4 separate regions of the Homo sapiens genome follow, and all the other regions are linked to region 1. The links come from fine-mapping of genetic effects on gene expression. A gene starts in region 1. Each other region holds a variant in brackets. All regions are shown on one strand. Distances are from middle to middle.

Region 1 (5,151 bases):
ACATAAAGGCTTAGAACAGTAGGTGGCACATACTAAATGCTAAGAAAGTGCTTGCTATTACCTTCAGTTGATTTAGTCTCTCCCAGAGCTTCCATTGCCATTTTTAGGTAAATAGTACCCAAATGCAATGTCATCATGAAGACCTCCCTTCTGAGTTCCAGACAGATATACCCAACTGCTGATTCATCATCTTTACTTGGATGTCTTGCAACACCTCAGACACAGTGTGTTGAAAATGAAATGTCTCATATCTTGCCCAAACTTGGTTTGGAATAGATCACCAGCTACTTTGAGAATCTGATAAAAAAAAAAAGTTCTCTTCTCATACAAATTCACAAAGCACATCATTTTGCATACAACTTGAAGGAATTCATGGACCCCAAATTAAGGATCACTGCCTTAGCAGATGTGTCACTTGAGCTGAGTCCTGAAAGAAGAGTAGAGTTTCACCTGGCAGACAGGCAAGTCAGGTGGGAAGGGCAGAGCTGGCAAAGAGGGCAGCTTGACAAAGGCGAGGAAACAGAAAAATACAAGGCGCAAAGAAGGACCTGCTGAGAAACAAGGCCAGGGAGGGAAGAAGGGACTCCATAACAGGAGTCAGGGCATATAGGCCACGTTAAATTCCTTGCATTTGTAGATAACAGAGCCATAAAAGTTTGAAAGGGAGAGACATGATCAGATTTGCATTTTAAAAATACTAACGATAGCAAACACTTGTTGTCTTCTATGTGCTTTCTACATAATCTCTGTGAAAGCTGGATAGGGTAAGGGGTGGGGGCAAGCTCTGGAAAAGCAGGGAAACGATGAACAGCTTTTTGATAACTGAAATTCAAGGGCTCTGTGAATATATGGCAAACACAAAACTAATTAGCATACATTGAAATGCATGCTATTTTACCTTTAGCTTAAGGATACTAGTGATACAGTAAGAATTCCTTTTTTTTTGGAGATGGAGTTTTGCTCTTGTTGCCCATGCTGGAGTGCAATGGCGTGATCTCAGCTCATGGCAACCTCCGCCTCCCGGGTTCAAGCGATTCTCCTGCCTCAGCCTCCCGAGTAGCTGGGATTACAGGCATGCGCCACCACACCTGGCTAATTCTGTATATTTTTTAGTAGGGATGAGGTTTCTCCATGTTGGCCAGGCTGGTCTCAAACTCCCGACCTCAGGTGATCCGCCCACCTCGGCCACCCAAAGTGCTGGGATTATAGGCGCGAGCTACCGCACCTGGCCAAGAATTCTTTAAACAATTCTGTCCTGTTACAACTACACATTTTAGTGACAGAGGCTGAGAACAGAAGCTCTGGTGTCAGCAGGAGTGGGGAGCCCCTCCCAGGAGGCCTGGCCGCTGTCATGCTGATGTCCAGATCCTGGGGCGATGTCACCCCCTGGGTCCAGGACTTCCTCTCCCTTCTCTAAGACAGAGCCCTTGAAAAAAATATCAGTTTTAGGTGAGTTCTGCAAATTGAAAATGAATAGACTAGTGAATGCTTTATTTAACGCAGTTACAAATAAGCTGGTTAATTTTGCTTTGTTTCTTCTATTCATGGTCCAGCTAACTAATGGCAGAAAAAAAAAGCCAATAATCTTGTTAAAGTTGATAAATGCCACTTACACAAAGAGTGGGAAGAAGAAAGGAAGTTTGGCATTTAGCATCAGGTTACTCCACCAGATTATAATTGGGTGCTGTAGAGAGCTATGAATAAGTTTGGATAACAGAGAAAGCCCATTGCTGGGTGAATGCCCTAGGGAGTAAAGTCCCGCATTTGGGCTAGGAGTGGTGGGGCAGGAGGGGCCCTGTGGGGAGCTTTGCCGGGGTTGGGTTAGAACTCTGGGTCGATCGTGGGCCTGGATTCTCTACCTGCCCTCACAGGGTTGCCAAATCCTGAGATTAGTCTAAAACCTCTCCGACCTTCCAGGAATGAGGCTTTCTGTAGTCTAGGCAGCTCCCGCCCTCCCCCAGGATTACTCCAGATAGGAAAAAACACCCTTTCCTCCTGGGTCAGTACCCGCGGCCTGGATGTGGTGCTGACTCTGCACAGGAAAGTCCTTTAGAGACAGAGGCTGCCTGGAAGCCTTTATAACGACATTCATCTCCTAAAAGGCATTTTGTCTTTTCTTCCGCTCAGGAAAACAGTGTTTGGAGACTAACTAATTAGTCTCCAAAGGTTTGAGCCCATTGTTTGAGTCCGCTGAAGCGAAGAGAATATTAAAAAAAAAAAAAGGCAGGGCTAGATCCTAATCCCAACACCATCTCCATCCCGCCGGTACAACAGGCCAAAGGGTCCAGCTGGGACAGGTGCACTTAGAGGTGAGGAAGTTCGGCGGGACTGGAGGAGTCGGGGAGGGGGACTCGGCAGCACAGATTAAAGTCCCACGATGAAGCCATATAACGAGAAATGCCATCCTCCTAGCCGACTTCGGAAAGACTTTTAGGTGCGGGTGTCCCACCCTGCTTTTCTTCCTCTCCCGATCTCCAGGGCCGGACTCCAGGGGGCTCCGGAGCTACAGGAGGAAAGTCCCCGAGGAAGGAGGAAACAAGTGCAAGAGCATCTCCTGTCTCTAGCGATGCAGACAAGGGGTCTTTGCATCCGCCTGGCGCTCTGCATCGCCTCACAGGATGGGTGGGCTTGCACTGAACCTTGAGTCCTTCCACTTTCCTCCCCCCGGGTGGTGCCCGCCCTGCCCAGGGCAGCGCGGCCCGCCCAGGAGAGAGCGGGGGATCCGGCAGGAGGAGAAGCCCCGCGCCCCGGTCCCGTCGCACGGATCAGGAGGGTCCCCGTCCGGGGAGGAGCCGCCGCGCAACTCGGAGAGCGCCCCCCGCCCGCGGCCCGGCCCGGCGCGGCTCACCCTCCGGTCTCGGCGCCCGAGTCCACGCAGTCGTCCTCCTCGCCGCCGCCGCCCGCCTTTGGGTCCATGGTGCACGTCCCGGCCGCGCTCGGCTTGCGGGCGCCGTCGTGACCCGGGGCGCCCTCCCTCCCGGCCGCCCAGTCCGAGCCGGCCGGGCTCCCTCCGAGCGTCTGGCGGCCCGGGAGCCGGCAAACAACTCAAGCGCCAGCCGCGAACCCCGCGCCGCGCCCTCTCCCGACCGCGCCCGGCTGGGCACCCGCGCCTGCGCCCGCGCCCGCCCCGCCCCTCGCCGTCCGGCGGGACCCGCGTGTGCGCGCGGCGGTGCGCGGGGAGTGCGCGTGCGAGCGCGTGTGCGAGCGCGTGGGGGGCGTGTGAGCGTGAGTGGCCGAGGTGTGTGGTCTCACACCCGTGCGTCTGTGCATGCGGTGTGATGTGGGTGCGGTGTGCACTCCTGGTTGCACGCGACTGTGGCTGTGCTGAGCGCGTGTGCCCGTCTGTGGTGCGTGACCGCGTGTGTGTTGTGGGGGCGGGGTAAGTGTGCACACGAGAGCCGCCTCTCTCCCCCAGGCCCACAGTCCGGGAATCCCGAGCCCCAGGGCTTGCCACGAGGTTCCCCACCTCCTGATCTGGGAGGAGCACTGAGAAAACCAACCTCAGCGCATCGTGAAAGCTGGGAAGGATTTGTTTCCCTTTTGGGACCAATTCGAACACCTGGGTGTTTTCTTATAGTTTCTGAAGAATTGCTGACGCCAAATTCATTATCACCTTTCTCAGTACACGTCTGAGCGGCATCCCACCCCCTCAACTTGCCAGTTTACAATAGGTGTCATGCATTCTTTTGCTACTTAAAAAAAAAAAAGCCTTTAAAAATAATTTAAAGAGCATTGAATGAACCTGCAATTCACGGGTTGTTGCAGCAAGGGGATAACCTTAGGGTGAGTTAATGATCGCTATTGGAGGGGCTCACCTCCTATTAGGAGGGTGAAGAGGGAGGCAAGTTGGCAGGGCGGGCGGAAGGAGACTTCGAACAACTTGAATTTAGTTCTGACAGCCCTATCCAAACCATTGGGAGGAATTGTCCTTACTGAGCCTAAAATTTCTTGCACCCCAAACAGCAATGGACATATTGGTGGGCATTAGCTGAAAGAAAGGAGCGTGCCAGTTCTTCAAGGGAGATTCCCCTGCCCATTTTTTATCTTGCAGCCAGGAGGGAACCTGCCTTTATTTACTCTGTGTGGGAACAATTCAAACTGTGCCTCATTTGATCCTCAGGGAAGTGCTGTGAAACAGGCTTACTTTTCTATTTTACCGTCAAGGAAACTAAACCCTACCGAGTTCGAGTGCCTGGTCCCAGGACACCCTATCAGTGAGCAGGGAAGCCAGGTAGTCCACTTAAGGTAGCTGGAGCCTGTGCCACTTACCTAGAAGGCTGATGAGTGGGCCAGTTGTATCCTCAGGAAGATGGTACTAAGGAAAAGGCCAGGGAAGAAAGGGTGAAATCAGCATGACTTTTAGAAGATGGGCTTTGGAAAATGAGATGCTATTTAAATGATTTCTGCCTTTCTCAAATATCCAGAGAAAGGGCATGCCAGACCAAAACCTCAAGCCACATCTCAAAATGATGCATGGATTCAGGTTCCCCTCGCCCACAGGGGACACAGTGTTATCATTCATCATTGGCATAGCAGTCTAATGGCAACTCAGTGATGCATTTATTATATGGAAGAGAAGCTTGAACGGTATCACTGTATTCTAGTGATGCATGGCTTTCTGCTTCAGTTCCCAGGTTTTAAAAGCCTCACTTCATTTTTTGCTTGTTTGTTTGAGACAGGGTCTTACTCTGTTGCCCAGGCTAGAGTACAGTGGCACAATCACAGCTCACTACAGCCTCCACCTCCCTGATTCAAGTGATCCTCCCAGCCTCCTGAGTAGCTGGGACTACAGGCGTGCCACCATGCCCAGCTGAGTTTTAATTTTTTTGTAGAGAAAAATATGTTGCCTAGGCTGGTCTCGAACTCCTGGCCTCAAGTGATCCTCCTGCCTCGGCCTCTCAAAGTGCTGGGACTATAGGCATGAGGCATTGCACCTGGCCCATTTTTTGGGAGGGCGGGGTATAAGAGTTGCTGGCAGGTAACCAGCACAAGAACCTTCAAGTGATCACTGCAGGGTATCTAGCCCCTAAACTTACATGGTTCCCACACTCCATAGTCCAGCTGTTTAATGTCAGTCTCTTTAATCATGGGGGTACGATGCTCTCCTCCACCCCTTTAAGATGGGGACAGAAAAGTGTCACTGGTCTGCTT
Region 2 (5,151 bases), 67 kb after region 1:
ACTTTAAGGCTGCACGCCTTCCTCTTTCCTCTTTCCTTGCTCTTGCCACTTACAAATCCTCTGAGAGATTTTAAATCTTTTGTGAGAGCCAGAACACAGGTGTCAATATTTAATTGTCAAGTTCTGAATTTTAGTGAATATTTATTACTTCACAATACACGAGGCTTCTGTTGACCCTGCTTTATTTATCTAACATTAAAAAAACACCAGTTGGTTGCCTCTTCATGCTGGCATGGTCTGCTCCTGTACAAGCGTGTGTAGGGGTGCAGTAAGGAACAAAGGGGGTTTCAACAAAGGCTCGCTGGCCACAAATAGCTCACTCACCTGCATGGCAGAAGAAGGCAAGAAGTGCCTACAAAAACACTGGCAGTACAAATCCAGCCATGTCTACAAAGTTCACGAGCAGGCAAAATGAACCTAAGGCAATAGAAGTCAGTCCATTGGCCACCTCTTTGGTGTGGGAATTTTATTTCATTTTATTTTATTTTATTTTATTTTATCTTTTGAGATGGAGTCTCGCTCTGTCGCCCAGGCTGGAGTGCAGTGGCACAATCTCAGCTCACTGCAACCTCCACCTCCTGGGTTCAGGTGATTCTTCTGCCTCAGCTGCCAGAGTAGCTGGGACTACACGTGCACACCACTGCGCTCAGCTAATTTTTGTATTTTTAGTAGGGATGGGGTTTCACCATGTTGACCAGGCTGGTCTCGAACTCCTGACCTCAAACGATCCGTCCGCCTCGGCCTCCCAAAGTGCTGGGATTACAGGCGGCAGCCACCGCTCCTGGCCAGTGTGGGAATTGATGGGGAAAGGGCAGAGGGAGCCTCTGGGGTGCTGGAAGTGTTCTAGGCCTGGATCTGGACATCTGCACATATAACACTGGAGCTGTGCATTTACAATTTGTGCCCTTTATGTATGCTCTACTTCAATTAAGGAGAACTGAAATTTTAAATAACTATAGAAAAAGCACCACTAGTGCTGTTGCTCAGCAGGATGTGAAGATATGTAATACGAGAAGCTGTACTCAGCCACCTATGGCACTGGGTAACAATTGCGTGGATTATTCCCTTGCAACAGAGTGAACTGGCCTGAATGAGAGCTGGCCTAGGCAGACAATTACAGTGTGGAAAATGGGGACACACCCCATCACCAGATGCCCATGAGAGCTGAACAATATTCAGATTCCTTATCTCTCCTTAACAATAGTAACTACCCTGATCAAGTACCTATTCAGTTCTAAGTGCTTTGTAGATACCGATTTTTTCCACTAGTCTTTACAATAATCTTATATGGTAGGTGTCTTTTGTTCCATTTTATCACTGAATCAATAGTTTAAAGAGACCTTATAACAAGTAAGGGGTGAAGCAAGATTTTAACCTTGGTCTGTGTGGCCTTTTGATCAGTACCATAGGCTCTGAAGACAGATTTCCTGGGTTTGAGTTCCAGCTCCTCATTTCCTTTCTGTGTAAATGTGGGTAAGTTCCTTGACCTCTCTGTGCCTTAATTTTCTCATCTTCAGGAAAGGGCGTAGTGGCAGCTATGTATCACAGAGTTATTTGAGTTAATCTGTGTAAAACACTTAGAACACAGTATGCACTTGGCACATAGTAAGAGCTATACATGTGTTACCGATTACTCTGTTGAATGACACAGGCTTTCAAATGGAAGGGCCAAATCCCATTATTTTCTGGGATATAAAGTAGAAATATAGGCCTAGCCAAACTGTTTGCTCCCTACCTCCCTCCTATGGGTTAACATAGCCCCGAATCCTAGGCACGTGGCAGGCCCATGGGACTGCTTTCCTTCTTCCCCAAGAGAACCCCTGGGTTACAGGCCGGGGGTGGGGTCAAGGTCCCCTGTCACTCCAGATCTCTCCTGCCACCCGTATCCTCAAGGTGGCCTAAGAGAAAATGTTGTTCCAGGCTTGTTGGCAGTTCCTACCTACACTGATGTCAGGCACAGGGGAGTCTGGAAGCTGTTGAAATGAGGACTTTTCCAGCTTGTGCCATCAGGTTTTCTGCCTGGATCTCCAACCCCATTCCCATCTGGATTCTGGTAATTTTCCCCTCCCTGACCACGTGGTGACAGTTGTCCTTGTGTGAACAAGACCCCGCCTCTGAGGTCACCTGTGATGCCTGACCAGAGTCTCTTCCCCAGAAGTCAAGACTTGGAAGTAAGAAATGGTAACATCAGTTGAGATTGTCTTTGAATGGAAGAGATATAAATAGAAGAATGCGGTAGCCGTTTTCCATCTTGTCCACTTGGAAATATACTGAGAA[A/G]GGAAGTGTGCAGCGAGTGTGAGAGGTAAAGCAGAGCCTCAGATAAGAGTGGGGACCAGGAGCAGAGATTGAGAGAGGTGGGTCACTCTGAGGCCTGAGCCACTGTGGGATCACCCAGCATCCTCATCTGCAAATTACCCCTCCTGCTTAAACTGGCTGTAGTGGGTTTCCAGCGCTCATACTTGAAGAGTTCACACAAATACACCTGGACTGAGTAATTCAAGGAACAAAATTCATTGCATGAAGCAATTTTCTTGGAAGCCTTTCTTGAATCCCCTAAATTGGGTTAGGAGCTCCTCTCAAACACAGCTGCTTCCCTTTCCCCATGGACTTACTTGTATCTTAGCCCTAGTTATACTCTTCTTAAAAATATGTCTGTATTAAAAAAGTTATCTTTAAAACCCACAAGGAGTTTCCAAAATGTAGTTTTTTTGAGTTGCAATCTTTAAATGTTTAGGTCTTATTCATGTAGCTCCTGCATTATTTATTTATTTTAATAACAACATAATAGGCTTTAATATTTAGCTTATATTTATTCATTTTACATGAACTCCTTTTTAAATTGAGCATCATCCAGGAGATAGTTAAGAATTGAGGGTTTGAGGTATTAGATATATATTTCTAAACATACGTTAAACTGAATATGTACCTATTAAAAAGAAAAGATAAAACGTTCTACCTAAGATCATCTCACGTACCACTTTGGAAACTCCTGTCCTACCTTACCGGCCCCTTAAAAGCAGGACAGTGACTCATGCACAGCCTGCTTTCTACCCTTGGGCTCAGGGCCCAACATTTCCCCTTTATAGAACTTTTCACAAGAAACCGTCGAATGTGCAATTAGTTTACTTGTCTGACTTGCATGGAAGACCCTTCCATGCATTGTTTACTGCTTTATCCTCAGTGTCTTCAACGAGGTCTGGCACGTAGCTGAGGTTTAATACATATGCATTGGAAGAAATAATGCATGCATTGATAAATGAAAACCAGTTCCAGAATGTTCTACAGCCATGAATGTCAATACATGCTGCTTCTGACTGGTGGGGACACTTGAGGGTGAGCACTCTTGCTCAGTCTCTTACTTTTCTCGCTTGCTCCACTCTGGTGGTGACACTATCAGGTCAAACATGGAAAGTCTTTAGTCCTTAGTTCCATTGGCTGAAGCAGAACAGTCCTCCGACACTGTGATTCATACGCACCCTAACTGGGCATGTGCAGAGCCAGCTGTATAATTGTATAATTTAAACAGCCCAGTTCAAAATGAAAATGTGTGTTCAAAAAGCAGGAGTCCCTATGACTCAGCAATTCCACTTCCAAACATACCCAACAGAATCGAAAGCAGGGACTCAAAGAGATAGTTGCATACCGTGTTCATGGCAGCATTACTTACAATAGCCAAAAGGTGGAACTTAAATGTCCATCTACAGATGAATGGATAAACAAAATGTGACATAGACACACAATGGAATATTATTCAGCTTAAAAAAGGAAGGAAATTCTGACACATGCTACTCACGAAGAACCCCAAGGACATTATGCTGAGTGAAATAAGCCAGTCACAAAAACACAAAAGCTGTATGATTCACTTGTGTGACGTACCGGAGTTGTCAAATTCATAGAGATAGGAAGTAGAATGGTGGTTGTCAGGGGCTGGGGGTAGGGGAAAATGGGGAGTAATGGGTATCACATTTTAGTTTTGCAAGAAGAAAACAGTTTTGAAGATGGGTTGGGTCAGGCATGGTGGCTCAATCCTGTAATCTCAGCACTCTGGGAGGCCGAGGCGGTAGATTGCTTGAGCCCAGGAGTCTGAGACCCGCCTGGACAACATGGCGAAATCCTTTCTCTACTAAACATACAAAACTTAGCTAGGAATGCACCTGTAGTCCCAGCTATTTGGGAGGCTGAGGTGGGAGAATCACTTGAGCTCAGGAGACGGAGGTTGCAGTGAGCTGAGAGATTGCATCACTGCATTCCAGCCTGGGCGACAAAGCGAGATCCTGTCTCCAAAAAAAAAAAAAAAAAAAAAAAAAAGAAAAAAAACAGAAAGCAAGAAAATGGGTTGATAACAACGTGAATGTATTTAACACAACTGAGCAGTACACTTAAAATGGTTAAGAGAGTAATTTTATGTTACATAATTTTTACTACAATTTTTTTTAAAGTAGGAGAAAAGCTTTCTCTCTCACAGTCTCTATCTCTGTCTCTCTCTCTCTCTCTGTCATGTTTTTTTATTTGGTATTGAGTGTCACACTCCCTTGGGCACAAGCATAGGCATTGGGTGAGTGCAGACACTTATAGGTGCCCAGGACCTCATCTTGATGCCCTGGGCATGCAGGGGGTGCATGCCTGGCTCCCACACTCTGAGGAGGGCAGGAAAAGGGGGCAGTGGTTGCTCAGCAGGACCCTATGGAGGGAGCAGGAAAAAGGGGCAGTGGTCACTTGGCAGGACAGGGGAGGGGGTGTTGAAGAACCCTTGCTAGGGAGGCGGCAGGTGCAATGGCAGGAGCTGAGGCTCCAAGTCTTTGGCACATAACTTGACTTACAAAACATTAATTCAAAGATACAATCATTAAGAGTTTTAAGATTGCCACTGCAGAGCACTAAACCTCAATCCCTTCTGTGTGTGGGGCTGGGCAAGTGCACTGTATACAGTCCCCAAGAAGCCAGCCCTGGTTGTGCTGCAGAAACATAACAAAACATCAACCCCGCAGCAGGTGTCCCCAGGGTGCCCGCGAACATGACGCAGCTCTGCATGTATGGGATCCACAGCCAGCAGACATGTGGCTCGAGCATAGCAAAGAGGCTGGAGGGATTGAGTCACTAAGCCAGTGAGCCTTAAAGGGTTATCTGTGGATTTCCCAGGACTAGGGCTTA
Region 3 (5,151 bases), 34 kb after region 1:
TGCTTTGGGTGGCAAGGCTCTACAGCAGGGATTTCCACAACTGAATTCACGAAAGTCCCTTAGTAACTCTGATATGCAGCAGGATTTTGGAACTGGAGCTATTGAAAAGCTCATTGAAGATTAATTAATGCAAGAACCAGAGGAATCAGGACAGTATTGAAGCTTCTTCAAGCAAAACGTTTTATTTCCAGCAGCATGTGGAAAAACATATTGTAGATGTCTGTATAAAATATCTCAAACAGCCATCAGAAATTTGGGATGTAATGTTTTTAATAAACCATAGAATGCCTGTTTTAAAGATGTTGAAGTCCTGGAGTAACTAAAAAGGATGGATGAAATGAGTAAATCTGTAGACACAGTGACACTTTTGTCGCTTCTTGAATCATACTTTAAATTATTTGAGTAATAAATGTGACCAGTGACTTCTAGATATTTAAGGAGCTACAATCAGAGTGTGTGTGTGTGTGTGTGTGTGTGTGTGTGTGTGTTAGAGAAACCCTACTTTCACAGGGAATCCAGGGCCAAGAAAGGCTGACATTTCTTGTAATATATTCAGGTGGTGAAAATATGACAGCGTTCAGGCACCCACCCACTTCCAGTTTCACCAGACTCTCCTTCTCGTTGTTGTAGACTCCCTTACTCTTCAGGACTCAACAGATTTCATCTCTGCTGCATCCAGTTTGCTCCTTTTAGTAGAGTGTAATCAGATGCAAATACAAATCACAGCTATTGTCAGAATTCAAATGGGTTCTAATGAGAATTAATATTTTCCATTTGTGAAAGTACTGATTCAGAGCACATAATGAGGCAAAAATTCAAAATTAGGCAGAAGCCACTCATTTCTCAAGCAGAAAGAACTATATTTTATTCATCTTACAGATATTAGAATTTTGCAATCCAGATATCAGAGCTTTATGCTATGAACGATTTCTAATTCCTCAACCAAATCTTACTCTCCATAATAACAACTGAACATATGAATATGTGGCCGAGTTAATTGAACGCTAATGTCTGCACTTTAAAGTTTTATTGTCAGATCTTGTTTCATTAACACAATTATGCAAGAAAGCGTTATATTAAACGTACAACTGTGATATGCTCTACATATTAGTCTGAATTCTTTTGGTTGCAAGTGACAAACTGAACTCACATTGATTTAAAGGAAAAGAGAAAGAAACTTACTGATTTATGTAACTACAAAATTTAGGTATACTTAAGGTACATTTGGACCTAAAGAATTAATTTTTCAATCTCTTTATCTGCTTCTGTTTCTTTTAACTGTTGGTCCATTTAATTGCTATAGTAGATAGCTTTTTCTAATCAAGAAAAGTGTTTCAAAGCAGCTTAAACTTATTGACTTTAGGACTCAAGATCCCAGAAGAAGAAAAAGCCCAGACAGAAAATTCCTTGGGAAGACTGTGCCTCAGTCAGGATTACGGGGCCATCTCAGTAAACCATTATTATGGGCATAGGGCTGGAGCCCTGTCATTGGCCTATCTTGGGTCACATACCCATCTCTGGAACTAATGTGTGGTCAGCATCATCCTCACATTGACCACCTTGAATGAAAGTAGAATGTTTCCCCGAAAAAAAGGATGATATGCAGACGGATGGTGTATTTCCACTCCATTATGGCCTAGCTCGAATGGTAGGTAAGATAGATGCAACTCATGGAAATGCTGCCAAGGACAAGAAGTATCTGGAAGGGGTTCAGGGAAGTTTAATGGAAAAGGCACAGAAGCCATAAAAGTGTCTTAAATTGACATGTCCATGTATGTGTGTATAGTAAAGTTTATATCTGTTGATAGTGAACTTCAAACCTTCAAACAGAACTTTGTACTTTCTTTTTTTTTTGAGACAGAGTCTCGCTCTGTCGCCCAGGCTCTGGAGTGCAGTGGCGCAAACTCAGCTCACTGCAAGCTCCGCCTCCCAGGTTCACGCCATTCTCCTGCCTCAGCCTCCCGAGTAGCTGGGACTACAGATGCCCACCACCACGCCCGGCTAATTTTTTTGTATTTTTAGTAGAGATGGGGTTTCACTGTGTTAGCCGGGATAGTCTTGATCTCCTGACTTCGTGATCCACCTGCCTCGGCCTCCCAAAGTGCTGGGATTACAGGCATGAGCCACCGTGTCCGGCCTGAACTTTGTACTTTCTAAAAAGTAATTCACTACATTTTCTCACTCAGAAAATTCTTGGTTTGTGTGTATGTTTTTTTTTTTTTTTGAGATGAAATCTCGCTGTGTCGCCCAGGCTGGAGTGCAGTGGTATGATCTCAGCTCACTGCATCCTCTGTCTTGGGTTCAAGAGAATCTCCTGCCTCAGCCTCCCGAGTAACTGGGATTACAGGTGCACACTCCCATGCCTGGCTAAATTTTGTATTTTTAGTAGAGACAGGGTTTCACCATGTTGGTCAGGCTGGTTTCGAACTCCTGACCTCAAGTGATCCACCCACCTCAGCCTCCCAAAGTGCTGGGATTACAGACATGAGCCACCATGCCCAGCTAGAAAATTCTTTATGACACAAAATTTGTCTCCCTGTTTCTTCCACCAACTGGACTTGGGACCACTGAGAACAACTATTATGCCTTTCTCAACAGGCTGTTCTTCAGATGTTTGAAGTTAATGGTCACGTCTTTCAGTCTAGTCTTTCCAGAATAAATATTTTTCATTGCCTCATTGTTCCTTGTATAATATGGTGTGAGACCCTTCCCACCCTCATCTGTCTCTGAGCACCCTTGCCTGTCAGAGTACTTGTGAAGGTATATAGCCTTCAACCATTCAGAGTGGGGAGAGCAATGATTGTTCTGTTGTTTTAGATTTTATATTTTTATTAATGTGCCAAGACCACGTTAGTGCCTGGGAAATTTCTTATCTAAATATTAATACACCTTAAGCTTACTATAAAAGAAAACTTCCAAGTTCTTTTCATGAAAACTTTACATCTTCTTTATGCCTACTTGTTCAGCTGGTTTTGGCCTCAAATTTTTAATGTAAAAAAATTTTTCAGTTTTATATTTTTCATGAAGTCACCATGTCTGTCTTAATAGCACAATAGAGAAGCAGTAAAGAGTAGTGAATGCTCACATAAACTTTAAAAAACTTTTATATTTAAAAGTAAACCAGATGCAAAAGAAGCTACAAAACAAATGTTTGCTTAATGACTTATAAGACAAACAATCAGGTCAAGAAATAGAATTTCACCAGT[C/T]ACTCCAGAAGCCCCTCCATAAGGTCTACCCTAGTCTTAATCCCTGCCTCCCCAATAATACACCACTCTGTTTATATGGTAAAATAAGCTAACCTGGCAATCAATCATGTGTAATATTTAAATACTTTTATTATCTAAATGTACATCAATAGACAGTATAATCTTGTCCATTTAAAAAATTAACAGCTGTTAAGTCTCTTAATCTCTAGTTTTCCCTCCATCTCTTCCTCTTAAAATTTATCTGTTGCATTTGACCTGAATAGTTATCTACAGTGTGGATTTTTAAATTACATAATCATAGCTTGAGTCAACATCTTCCTCCATCCTGTGTATTTCCCGCAAATTGGTAGTTGGAGCCAAAGTCTTGATCAGATTCATGCTTAATCCTTTCTCCTAAGGCCGTAGGCCGTGGTGTGTTCTGTGGAGAAGAGGCACATAATGTCTGGTCATTTCTTTCTGTAGTTGCAGCTCTTGATGCTCAATGCCTTGATTCATTACTTCCCTGGGATTTGGAAATAGTGAAATTTTAATTCTATTATTTCTTGCAGTTTATTTAGTGTAAAACTCTTTATAAGGAGACACTTCACACATCTGCAATTTGGTTATGGAGTGGACTAGTTCATACAGAAAGACAGGATGATACTTTTTTCTTTCCATTTATTTAATAGTTTTCAAGATGAATTGATTTTCTATCATTTTCTGAAGGTGAACAACAATTTGGGTTAAAAAATGTTATTATAAACTCATTGATTTAATGGGTCTATGATTGCAATTATCCCTTTGAAGCTCACTTGTTCCTTCTTTGGCCAGTGGGAGCCTCTTCAAGTCAGTTTCTCAGTATTTTTGACATGGCCCTAGTAGTCTTTGATAGCCTCCTTGCTATCTGGTATAACAAAGTGCATCTTGTTCATTTTCTGCCTCGGACTTGGAATCAGTCACTTCCTCAAAGATATTCAAGCCTCTTTGGGTAGAAAGGGTATTTTAATACCATAATCTGGGTGTTTCTAGGCTCTTAGTAGGCAGAGTTAATACATACCTCCGACAACTCTATGCTATGTAGTCTTATGAATTTATATCGATACTTTTAATTAAAATTCAGAGATGTAAGGTTTTTTCTTAATCTGTTATATTACTTCTGTATCTTGTTTTTCCATACTGAGAATCTAAGAATCCTGGTTCTCAAGGACTTGAGGAATAATCAAATTAGAAATTTCATAAGTATTTATTTTCTTTTTTCCTCATTGCACACACAGTCTAAGATAAGAATATCTACAGTAATACTGTTCTACCACCACCAGTTAAAATTGTTTTTGCAGATGTGCTCCCTATCATCCTCTACTCTTTGCAATTATATAAAATCTATGCTGCCTGAACATGTAGACATTGTATGTTGTTCTCTTTCCTTTTTATCCTAAATATAATTTAGCTCTACAAGTAAATGCATATTTAATATTCACCAGTCCTTATTTTGATGTTTCTCAATCAAATTTGAAGTTCATTCTTTAGTATATTCTTCAGTAAAGGCTCATGCAAATAGTATTTCCTAAGTTCTTGCCATGTCAAATAGTTTATTGCCCTTATATTTGAAAGTCAGTTTAGCTGGTTATATAATAATTGGTTCAGTTTTCCTTGAGTGTCTAAAATCTGTTATTCTACTTTCTCTGGCATATGTATTGCTGCTAAAAATTCTGGAATTCTGATGGCAATTTACTTGCCATCAGAAATATACTGGTTTTATCTAGATGACTGCAGTGTTTTTTCTTTCTCTTTAAAGTCTAGTAATTTTACTGAAACATGACTTGATGTTGGTCATTATGGGTCATTATTCTCAAATACATGGTGGCCCCTTCAGTATATAGTTTCAAACATATCTTTTAATTTTAAGAAAGTTTTCATGAATTATATTTTTTAGTATTTATTGTGTTTTTTTATTTTGGGTTTCTTC
Region 4 (5,151 bases), 91 kb after region 1:
AAATTAACCTCAGACAGGAGGAATTTCCTGCCTTGCTTGTTTGTTTAATAAAAGAACAAGAATTGGAAAACAGTTAAGTTGGAGAAATGAGTATATGTTCATTCTTGCCTATTAACCATCATAAATCCCAAAGGATTTAGAGTTTGTAGGAAGATCACTGACTCTACACTCTGTAACGGCCCCTTTGCCGAGAGGTATCTGTCCACAGCAGTTGAGTATCAGATGGGATGGTGGCTCCCCAAACCACACCAAAACAGCTTGGTGTTAAGGCAAAGCCAAGTTCATTACATACCCCAGTAAAGGGGATTCTGAGACTGAGGAGTGCCTCAGAAAAGAGGGCAAATGTGGTGGTCATTGAATATGTTGAACCCTGAGTGAGTGAGTTTTTGATGTGGGGGTGGATTAGAATTGGGAAAGTTTGGGACATATTAGGGTCAGGGGACACAGGGAGGTGAGGATTTGGGCTAGATTGCTGCTATTTTTGGTCCTGAGAAGGCAGGTAAATGGACTTAGATTTTCAGGAAATTCTGCAAAGAAACCATAAATTACCTACAAGCTCACCTTCCCAAGGGAGTTTCTGGGAGCAGTGGTGTTGGTGGATGGTGGGTGGAAGGAACATGGTGTGAGCGTGCACAGGATGCTGCAGGTGTGCGGATGCCTGCTCTCCTGAGGGCTGGTGTAGAGGACCCCAGGAAGGCTTCCCTGGCTTTTGTCCCCTGTCCTCAAGATAGCTTCTGTCGTTTGTAAAACTCCATGTTGCTCAGCACAGGCCCTTTGGAGTCAGTTTCCAGATGTCTGGTATCACAGAGCCCCCTCTTCTGTCTCATTTTTCTCTTGGACACACGGTGGCACAGAGTTCGAGATGCAGGAGGCAAAAGGTTGACAGCCACTGGGGAGGCCCATGTGCATCAGACCTCAGTGCACACAGAACAGTGCTCAGACCAAGGGAAGGCACCCGGGCACCCACACCTTTCCTGGGGCCCATTGGGGCTGTGCTGCAGGCCAGGCTGACCCAGCCCCAGGGCTCCCAGAGTGTTTCTGAAATTGCCAACTTTAATTAAAAAATATATATTTAATAAATAAAAAAATTAAAAATAGTACATGTTCAGTAGAGAAAATTTTTTATAGTTTTTAAAATTGTGATAAAATATACATAACTAAAATTCACAATTTTAACCATCTTTAGGTGTAAAATGAGTGGCATTAAGTACATTCACAATGTTGTGCAAACATCACTTCCCACCTCTAGAACTTCCCCATTCCCTCAAACAGAAACTCTGTGCCTATTAAATAGCAACTCCCCGTCCTCCCCTCTCCCAGCTCTTGGTAACCACATTCTATTTCCCTTCTCTATGAATCTGACTACTCTAGGTGTTACTGGAAAGGGGTACCAATCCAGATCTCAAGAGAGGGTTCTTGGATCTTGTGCAAGAAAGAATTCACGGTGAGTCCGTATAGTAAAGTGAAAGTAAGTTTATTAAGAAAGTAGAGGAATAAAGGAATGGCTACTCCACAGACAGAGCAGCCCTGAAAGCTGCTGGTTGCCCATTTTTATGGTTATTTCTTGATTGTATGCCAAACAAGGGGTGGATTATTCATGCCTCCCCTTTGTAGACCATATAGTATAACTTCCTGATGTTGCCATGGCATTTGTAAACTGTCATGGCGCTGGTGAGGGTGTAGCAGTGAGGACGACCAGTGGTCACTCTCATCATCATCTTGGTTTTGGTTTGGGTTTTAGCCTGCTTCTTTACTGCAAGCTGTTTTATCAGCAAGGTCTTTATGACCTGTATCTTGTGTCAATCTCCTATCTCATCCTGTGACTTAAAATGCCTTAACCTCCTGGGAACGTGGCCCAGCAGGTCTCAGCGTCATTTTACCCAGCCCCTATTCAAGATGGAGTTGCTCTAGTCCAGATGCCTCTGACATTTTCCCTGCTTTTTAAATAACAAAACCCTTAATCCTAAGGGTTGCAGAGGGATGAAGATCCATCATTTTCTGTTACTTCTTTGGGCTGAGTAGGGGCGATGATATTCCCAAGTCTCTTGTGTTCAGGATAGAGAGGAGCTTAGAAAGCATAAGTATGTTGAGGGACACTCATAACTCTGAGTTCCAACAAAAGGTGATATCCAGAAGATGAATAAGTGTTTAATTTAAGAAAACATTCGGTAAGCTTATCCTGCTTTTTTTTTTTTGTTTTTGAGACGGAGTCTGTCTGTCACCAGGCTGGATTGCAGTGGCGCGATCCTGGCTCACTGCAACCTCTGACTCCCCAGTTCAAGTGATTCTCCTGCCTCAGCCTCCTGAGTAGCTAGGATTACGCCACCACGTCAAGCTAATTTTTGTATTTTTAGTAGAGCTGAGGTTTCACGATATTGGCCAGGATAGTCTCGATCTCCTGACCTTGTGATCTGCCCGCCTCGGCCTCCCAAAGTGCTGGGATTACAGGCGTGAGCCACCG[C/T]GCCCGGCCGCTTATCCTGCATTTCTACACAAAGAGTACAACAATATATTCCACAACAGTAAAGCAAAATAAGCAAAATTATCTCAAGTTAACTAAATTAGAAGGCTTTCCATGAACTGGGCAACTATTGGAACCAAGCTGATATGGGGTTGCTAGATGATTCCAATACATGCTCAGGATTAGAATATTGATCCAGATTTTTATATTACCCATCCCTCTTGTTTCTTCTAAGCAGCAGCCAGAGATCACTGGTTGCTTCATAGGAATAAGCAGGGCTAGTCTAAATTACAGGAAAAAAACTCAAAAATAACTGATGAGACTAAAGTTTAATAACAAATGTACCATAGTTCTTGAAACATAATTTTTCTCTCTCTAGTTTCCCATTTTTCACTAAAGACAAATCATGGTAAGACTGATTTGGTTTATTATACTTGGCTTGATTATTTGTATAAAGTGCAGCAAGAATAATTATTTTTCACATAAGCTCTTTTTAAATTGGCTTTGATGGAACTCTGTTCCATAAGAAGGAATCTTAGATAAGACTTTTTTAGAGCCGAGCCATGGATTTGTACCCTCAAATACCTATGAGTTGAGTAACTTCCTCTCCTCTTGAGGTTCCCAGATAACTTGGGGCTCTTAGGCCTTTTCCCAGATAACTTGGTGGGGTCCTAGGCCTGTTAGAAAGTGACATTCTTTACTTACCACAGGTCAGGAAACCTGTACAGGGACTGTGTAGACAAGGTGTGAGGCCAGTTTTCCCAAGGGGCTTTTATTGGATCTATAAGTCAAGTTTAATTCCTTAAAGGAAAACACACCATTCCAGTCAAAGCCTTGGTAAAAATAACCAGTTTTTCCAATTGTGTCCTATTGCAAAAGAAACAGATTCTTATTGCACTATGTTGCCTTAAGATACTCACAAATAGTTTCCAAATTCTGGAGGAATCAGGTAGAGAGAAACAAATATGCTCCAAATTTTGTTCACAGGAGTATAATTTACTTAATTGTCAAAAGCTGTAAATAGCTTAAGTTTCCTTGACTTTGAAAAACAAAACAAAGGATCAGCACGGTTTTAAGCGAAAAGTCAAAAAAGATTACTTCAATGTTTAATTTACAGAAAAACTGAATGCTCCTTTAGCTTTAGCTAATATGTTGGCACATGGAATCTCTTTTACAATTAATTGTTCACAAACCTTCTACAACTTGTTCAAACCTTTGGCTTTATCCTAACTCAAAACAACACTTTAACCCTTTAATCTAGGCAAAAAAAATCCACATTTCCTTGACTGTTTATATATATATATATATATTTTTTTTTTACCAAAAACACATTTCACTTTCCTTACATGCCTTACACATAGAACTGTTTCTTTAGTAGTCTTAACTATATGTTACAATGTTAACTCTTAGTGACTTTTACTTTTGGTGAAAACCTTGGTAAGTTCAGGGGTTTAATTATGTACTAGTGTGGAGCCTAGGACCCAGTCAGAAGTGCAGATAAGGTCTGATTCTTTCCGTTGTCTAACTCCATGTGTCCCAGGCCTTACCAAGCTGTACATTTAAGAGTCATAGTGGTGTTTTTTTGAAGCATTTAGGAGGCCTAATCACCTTTAAATTGTACATTTCTTGCATAAATCCCCTTTATAAATTCTTTTACAATGTACACAGACCATCTACAACCTGCTTTGACTTTCTGACTTGTCCTAAACATCCCTCTTTTTAAACAACCAGTCATTTTACTTTAGGACAAGAATTTACCATACAAAATCCTTTCTTATATAAAATCTCTTTTCTTTATAACCTTCTTTGCATAGATAGGGGGCACGCTAATTTCACATGTTCCCAGGCCTTATCTAGAATCTAATGCTCCAAAATAAATTGAACAATTTTCAAAAGTCAAAGAAGCAGTTTATGACCTTAAAGCATTTAGCAAACTTAATATCTGACTGCATAATTTAGACCAAATGTCTTTGTTTTACCAATAATCTTTAAGGCTGTTTTTATTTCCCAAAGATTACTAAAGTCATGTGAACTAAAAGGCATTACACTTTTTACTTTTCTGAAAAAATATTTTATTTAAGCACTTATTTTTAAACCAATTAATCAAAGCTCTTTCATATCACACACACAACACATACAAATACACAGACATTCAGCAGGTAAAGGACTCATTCCATAAGCCAGGAATTGAACCCTGAACCCGGGCTGCCATTGTGAAAAGAGAAAGCAAGGCCACATGGTTCCCAAGGACATAGAAGACAGGAGGGAAACCCCATCCAGTTTATTTTTTTCATGCATCTGCAGCAAAGTTTATAACTGACCAGTTTACTAGGCCATCTTGAAGAGTAGGCTTATGGGTTCTAAGGCCATGTTCTATCCTAAGGTACCCCTCTTTATGACAGAACAATACAGAAAGACACACAAAGCACACCAGATTCACTACAGCTTAAGACTAGGCTCACAAATCCTTTTTTCTATTAACCAAAACTTTATAGAGGAGATAAACAATGATTTTTGTCGTGCGTTCAACTGGTTTGCACAGAGAAAGAAAGGAAAGGGAAGGGAGAAAAGCATTGTCTGTGGCAGGGTGGGGAAGGCGAGGCACTCAGGGAAGCCAGAGAAAGACATGCCCATTGTGGCCGACACTGAATCAAAATTTCAGGTGATCCCTTGTCAGTCATGAAGGGATCTTC

Direction of the effects. Positions count from the first base shown, and alleles are read on the strand shown. Sizes are in standard deviations (SD) of each study's normalised expression. Not every link is listed here.
In carriers of allele G in region 2, the expression in monocytes after LPS of the gene that starts at base 3,020 in region 1 tends to be higher than with A alone (large effect, 0.86 SD a copy in Quach 2016).

The links. PIP is the estimated chance that this variant, and not a neighbour inherited with it, causes the effect.
Region 2: its variant is fine-mapped to the expression of FAM124A in monocytes after LPS (Quach 2016, PIP 0.95).
Region 3: its variant is fine-mapped to the expression of FAM124A in lung (TOPMed, PIP above 0.99).
Region 4: its variant is fine-mapped to the expression of FAM124A in breast (GTEx, PIP above 0.99).

Annotation. Positions count from the first base shown.
Region 1 is chr13:51,220,267-51,225,417 of GRCh38, reverse strand. FAM124A (family with sequence similarity 124 member A) reads right to left here and starts at 3,020. Exons shown (of 4, transcript NM_001242312.2): 1 at 2,849-3,020. The coding sequence starts at 2,916. RefSeq lists silencers at 3,072-3,131, 3,252-3,301 and an enhancer at 3,082-3,872.
Region 2 is chr13:51,152,788-51,157,938 of GRCh38, reverse strand. It overlaps a transcript of C13orf42 not described here. Among named protein-coding and RNA genes, the nearest start is that of C13orf42, 44 kb to the right of the region's middle. The variant A/G (reference allele first, on the strand shown) is at 2,278.
Region 3 is chr13:51,185,810-51,190,960 of GRCh38, reverse strand. LOC107984554 (a long non-coding RNA gene) reads left to right here. Exons shown (of 2, transcript XR_007063803.1): 2 at 1-298. Among named protein-coding and RNA genes, the nearest start is that of FAM124A, 34 kb to the left of the region's middle. The variant C/T (reference allele first, on the strand shown) is at 3,207.
Region 4 is chr13:51,129,480-51,134,630 of GRCh38, reverse strand. It overlaps a transcript of C13orf42 not described here. Among named protein-coding and RNA genes, the nearest start is that of C13orf42, 21 kb to the right of the region's middle. The variant C/T (reference allele first, on the strand shown) is at 2,462.